2 linked regions of the Homo sapiens genome follow. The protein of the gene in region 2 binds, or shares a complex with, the protein of the main gene of each other region. Each region holds a gene or a part of one and is shown on either strand. Other genes may lie near its edges. The genes, in order: NUP98 and NUP160.

Evidence for each region.
Region 1: NUP160 (region 2) and NUP98 share a complex: the UniProt entries of both Homo sapiens proteins name them as parts of the nuclear pore complex.

What each region holds. Positions count from the first base shown.
Region 1 is NC_000011.10:3,717,471-3,721,301, reverse strand, and holds part of NUP98 (nuclear pore complex protein Nup98-Nup96 isoform 1 precursor), read left to right. Parts: intron 1-476; coding exon 477-590; intron 591-1,751; coding exon 1,752-1,890; intron 1,891-3,831. UniProt on the Homo sapiens protein: Plays a role in the nuclear pore complex (NPC) assembly and/or maintenance. NUP98 and NUP96 are involved in the bidirectional transport across the NPC. May anchor NUP153 and TPR to the NPC.
Region 2 is NC_000011.10:47,779,713-47,782,409, forward strand, and holds part of NUP160 (nuclear pore complex protein Nup160), read right to left. Parts: intron 736-2,697; coding exon 631-735; intron 1-630. UniProt on the Homo sapiens protein: Functions as a component of the nuclear pore complex (NPC). Involved in poly(A)+ RNA transport.

The sequences.
Region 1 (3,831 bases), about 44 Mb from region 2:
TACTTCTATTGTTAAATTACAGTATAAGCCAACACAAGTTATTTCCACTGTAGGTTTTGGTATCCTTGTGTGTAAAATAAAATAAAAAGCTGATTAAGCTTTTCTCAGAGTATTTTATGAGATACCTTTTATAGTCCGGGATGTTAATGGGTGTCCTTTGAAAATAATGTTCTGTGGTTAAATCTGGAAAAACACGAGGTTAAGCAGAGTTTAATAGGCTATTTACTGTAAGTTTTAGACTCTTTGATGTATCATATGTATGTTCTTCAAACCTATTTGACCATGAAGCTTTTCACACACACACACACACACACACACACACACACTCACACACCCCTTCTCCTAGGAATCATGTTTGGTAGAAAAGTAGTTTGGAAAATTCTTCATTCTGATATATTTTCTCTTTATATGATGATTTAGTTGCTGATTATTTCAGGTTATTTTTTTTTCTGTTTTTTTTTTTTTTTTTGTCACAGGTATTATTCTCACTAAGGTTGGTTACTATACTATTCCATCTATGGATGACCTTGCTAAAATTACCAATGAAAAAGGAGAGTGCATTGTCTCTGATTTCACTATTGGTCGGAAAGGTAAGTGTGAGTTTAGCACTTAGTGATTAAGCCAGAGAGTTGCACCTTATTTTTGTAATTAGGGGAAGCTTTTGATAGCTGAATCTTCATTTTCCTACATTTGGGCCCACCTTGGCCTGAATCTTAAATACTTTGATTGATAAGTAACAAAACAAGAAAGACTGGAACCATGTAAATTTTTTTATTTTTATTTATTTTATTTTTTCTGTTGAGATGGGGTCTTGCTACATTGCCTGGCAGATCTCAACTCCTGGGGTCAAGCATTTCTCCTGCCTCAGCCTCCTGAGAAGCACAGAACCATATAATATTCTTTGGGCTTAGGTATACCTGTTTGGTGCTAGTAACTATTTGGGTCATTTTAATTTTCTGTAATTAAAGAAAATACTGGAAATACCAAGAACTTCTGAGAAAATTGAATAATAGGCAAGAGATGTATAACACTTAGCATGAACTTCATGTTATTATTACTGATAATTTTCTTGTGGGAAATGCCACTGTGCTATATTGTATTAAAAAGAGCTCAGGCATTTTAACCCATATGCCAGGCCAAGTGCGAAGGTTTGTTTATATAGCGTCATTATAGATAAATGGGAAGAGATTTAAGAAGGTTGTTTTGAGGCTAATGGGAGTTTTATAAAAATGCAGATGTTAGGCCTGTCGCAGTGACTCACACCTGTAATTCTAGCGCTTTGGGAGGCTGAGGTGAGAGGATCACTTGAGCTCAGGAGTTCTAGACCAGCCTGGGCAACATAGTGAGACCTCACCTTTACCAAAAGTAAAGAAAATGAGCCAGGCCTGATGATATGTGCTTGTAGTCTCAGCTACTTGGGAGGGTGAGGTGGGAGGATTGTTTCAGTTTAGGAGGTTCAGGCTGCAGTGAGACAGGACCACTGCACTTCAGTCTGGTCAACAGAACAAGACCTTGCCAAAAAAAAAAAGAAAAGAAAAGAAAAGAAAAATGCAGATTTTAAATCAGATAACAGTGTAATTGAAGTTACTCTCCCTAAGTCCCCATTCTTACCAGTCTAGGAATTGCTGAATTATTTAAAATACTAATACTTAAAACTGCTTTCTCCTTGTGATTGTTTAATCACTATAGTTGTAAAGTAGGTATTTGCCTTCATACAGAATGAATTTTTAACTATTTGCTCTGATTTATAGGTTATGGTTCAATCTATTTTGAAGGAGATGTGAATTTGACAAATCTAAATTTGGATGATATTGTGCATATCCGGAGGAAAGAAGTAGTTGTCTACTTAGATGATAACCAAAAACCACCTGTGGGTGAAGGGCTAAATAGGTAAGAGTTTATGTACATACAGAAAATTATCAGCTAAATCACAATTTTTTTTTCTGTAAACATAAATGTGTTTAGATGTATGCTTCTGTAGCTTGCTTTCCTTACTATAGAGTACATTTATTGTCTCTACTTTGATTTAAAAGTATAAATGGCAAAGAAATGCTATACTGTGATTTTGAACTCCTTTTCCCTGATTTTATTTTTTAATTCATTTTTTTACATTCCTTGGATTCGATTCTATTCTATTTTATTTCATTTCATTTCATTTTACTATTATTATTTTTTTTTTTTGAGATGGAGTTTTGCTCTTGTTGCCCAGGCTGGAGCGCAGTGGAATGATGTCAGTTCACTGCAACCTCCGACTCCCGGGTTCAAGCGATTCTCCTGCCTCAGCCTCCCAAGTAGCTGGGATTGTAGGCGCCCGCCACCATGCCTGGCTAATTTTTGTATTTTTAGTAGAGACAGAGTTTCACCATGTTGGCCAGGCTGGTCTTGAGCTCCTGATTTCAAGTGATCCTCCCACCTCAGCCTCCCAAAGTGCTGGGATTACAGGTGTGAGCCACGCTGCCCAGCCTCCCTGATTTTATTGGGTCCAACTGCTAATTTCAAAAACTCTTTTTAATAGTATTTTGCTTTATTCCTGTTTCTGCTGTGGCTATACTTAACTCTCTATTTTAGTGTGAGATCCTAGCTTCTAATATCTTAGTCAAGTGAAAGGGCTGTAGTGAAAATTATTTATCTTCATAACCTACCAACCCTGAATCAGGAAGAAATAGAAAATCTGAGCAGATCAATCGATCCTTTCCTTTCCTTTCCCCTTCCGCTTCTTTTCTTTTCCCTTTCTCTTCTTTCTTTCTTTTCTTTCTTTCTTCTTTTGAGACAGAGTTTCACTCCTTTGCCCAAGCTGGAGTGCAGTGGTATAGTCTCAGCTTACTGCAACCTCTGCCCCCTGGGTTCAAGCGATTCTCCTGCCTCAGCCTCCAGAGTAGCTGGGATTATAGGTGCCCGCCACCATGCTCAGCTAATTTTTGTATTTTTAGTAGAGACAGGGTTTTGCCATGTTGACCAGGCTGGTCTTGAACTCCTGACCTCAGGTGATCTGCCCACTTCGCCCTCCCAAAGTGCTGGGATTACAAGCATGAGCCACTGTGCCGGGCCAATAATTAGTAAAGAGATTGACTCAGTAATCACAAACTTGTCAAAAAAGAAAAACCTAGAATCAGATGGCCTCATTGGTGAATTCTACTAAGCGTTTAAAGAAATAACACCAGTCCTACTCAGACTCTTCCAAAAAATTGAAGAGAAGGGAATACTTTCACACTCATTCTATGAGGCAAGCGTTACCTTATTCAGTAACCAAAGACACTGCAAGGAAAGAAAACTACAGACCACTTGATGAGTATATTGATGAAAAAGTCATCAACAGAGCCCTAGGAAGCAGAATTTAACAGCGTATTGAAAGGATTACACATCATGGCCAAAAGATTTATTCTGGAATGCATGGATGGCTTAACATACAAAAGTCAGTGAAACATACCACTTTAACAAGATAAAGGAATATACCACATCATCATCATCATCATAATACAGAAAAAGTATTTACCAAAATCCAACACTCTTTCATAATAAAGGCACTCAAATACAGAAGGCTTTTCCTGTGAGACAAGGCAACACAAGGATGCCTGCTTTTGCCACTTTTCCCAAATATACTACTGCAAGTCCTGGTCAGAGCAATTAGGCAAGAAAAATAAAAGTTAATACAGTTTTGAAAAGTAGTAAAATTATCTCTGTTCTTTGATGACATCTTGTGTAGAAATCCCTAAAGATGCCACACAAAAAAACTTACTAGTTATAAACAAATTCAACAAAGTTACAGGATACAGAATCAACATGGAAAAATCAGTTGCACTGCTATACACTAACAACAAAAATTAAGAAAAC
Region 2 (2,697 bases):
ATCACACTGTATTTCTTTCTTTTTCAGGGTGGGGGAATGGAGTCTCACTCTGCTGTCTAGGATGGAGTGCGGTGGTGCAATCTTGGCTCACTGGAACCTCCGCCTCCTGGGTTCAAGCGATTCTCCTGCCTCAGCCTCCCGAGTAGCTGGGATTACAGGTGCCCGCCACCATGCCTGGCTAGTTTTGGTATATTTAGTAGAGATGGAATTTCACCATGTTGGCAAAGCTGATCTCGAACTCCTGACCTCTCAGGTAATCTGCCCGTCTCAGCCTTCCAAAGTGCTGGGATTATAGGCGTGAGCCACTGCGCCCGGCCTATCATTGCTGTATTTCAAGTACCTGTTTACCTTGTAGGGTCTGCCCTACCAAATTAAAAGCTTTAAAGGATGGACCGACTGCTTGCCATTTGTCTCTGTATAATTAACACTTACACAGTTCCTCATTATGTTTTCTTGATCCTGTTACTTAGATCCTCTGCCTTATCTATAAAGGGACTGGGCAGTTTGTTAAGGGCCAAAAATAGGCTTTTGTCTTCCCTTTCTAATCCCGGAGAACTGAAGATCAAGCTGTAAGGTGTAACTGCTAGTGCAGGGGCTTACACAAGACGTCTCATGAAAGGGCTGACTTACTGCGATGTTGTGACTGTTGGCACTGTTCTCTCCCAGAGCTTGGAGAAGCTGATCAATAGAGGAGTATGGAAGCCACACCATTGGGGCTGTTGCGGACAGTGGAAACTAAAAGGAAAATGTTTATTTGAAAACAGTCTGCAAAGTGTACCATTTCTTCTGGGTAGTTGCTTTCATAGGACTCTGTAGAATAAAATACCCTTTTTTTTTTTTTTTTTGAGATGGTCTTGTTCTGTCGCCCAGGCTGAGTGCAGTGGCACAATCTCAGCTCACTGCAACCTCCGCCTCCTGGGCTCAAGCAATTCTTGTGCCTCAGCCTCTTGAGTAGCTGGACTACAGATGTGCACCACCATGCCTAGCTAATTTTTTTATGTTTATTTTTAGTAGAGATGGGGTTTCACCATGTTGGACAGGCTGGTCTCAAACTCCTGGCCTCAAGTGATCCACCTGCCTTGGCCTCCGAAAGTGAGCCACTGTGCCCGGCAAAATAAAATGCATTTTTTCCCCCAACCACAAGAAACTGTGTGTATACATGTGCATGCACACAATGGGAACCCTCTTTTCTCCAACTGGGAAACTTGTCATTTTTTTCGGTTAAATATATTTAAAAATTCATGTCGGCTGGGCCTGTAATTCCAACGTTTTGGGAGGCCGAGGTGGGCGGATCACAAGGTCAGGAGTTCGAGACCAGCCTGGCCAATATGGTGAAACCCCGTCTCTACTAAAAATACAAAAATTAGCCAGGTGTGGTGGCACAGATGTAGTCCCAGCTGCTCGGGAGGCTGAGGCTGAAGAATTGCTTGAACCCGGGAGGCGGAGGTTACAGTGAGCCGAGATCATGCCACTGCACTCAAGCCTGGGCGACAGAGCGAGACTCCGTCTTGGAAAAAATAAAAAAATAAAAATAAAAAATAATTTCATGTCAACTTTCTTTTTTTTTTCAGACAGGGTCTCACTCTGTCACTCAGGCTGGAGTGTAGTGGCATGATCATAGCTCACTGTACCCTCAACCTCCAGGGCTCATGTGATCCTCCCACCTCAGCTTCCCACATAGCTGGGACTATAGGCACGCACCACCATGACCAGCTAATTTTTTTCTATTTTTTGTAGATAAAGGTTCTCACTATGTTGCCAAGGCTGGTCTTAACCTCTGGGTTTAAACGATCCTCACACCTTGACCTCCGAAAGTGCTAGGATTACAGGTGTGAGCTATTGCACCTGGCTGATTTCATGAGGGTTGAAGCTGTAGTTAACTACACCTATTTAGACCTGGCTCTTCTATTATATTTGCCATCTGTATGAGCCTGTGATAACCTCTGAGCCTGTTCCCTCATGGGTTAAAAAATAGAAAATTAAAACATTCCTTCATAAGGCTGCTATAAGGATTAAATAAAAAAATGCTTGTAGAGACTTAACACAGTCCCGGCACACACACAATACCATTTTGTTTATCTCTCTCCACTGAATCCTAACTAATGCCATATTATTTTGATAGAGAAAGATGAAATTCCTATTTTATAAACAGGAGACTAGAGATTCCTAGAGTGTCAATATTTAGTTGTATAACTACAGATAGTAAAGGTTAAATACACTAACATATAGTTCAATTTACTCTCAGATTCTCACCTTACATAGCATGATAATAAAAAGAAATGCCTAGGCCGGGCATGGTGGCTCACATGGGTAATCCCAGCACTTTGGGAGGCCGAGGTGGGTGGATCACTTGAGGTTAGGAGTTCCGAGACCAGCCTGGCCAACATGGTGAAGCCCCATCTCTACCAAAAATATTAAAAAATTAGCTGGATGTGGTGGCAGGTGCCTGTAATCCCAGCTACTCAGGAGGCTGAGGCAGGAGAATCACTTGAACCCGGGAGGCGGAGGCTGCAGTGAGGGAGTAAGTGGAGGCTGCATCACTGCACTCCAGCTTGGGCAACAGAGCAAAACTCAGTTAAAAAAAAAAAAAAATATATATATATATATATATATATATATATATATATATATATATATATATATATGCGCCTATACCGATGTTCCTCAACTTATGGTGGGTTTGTTTTCCAATAAACC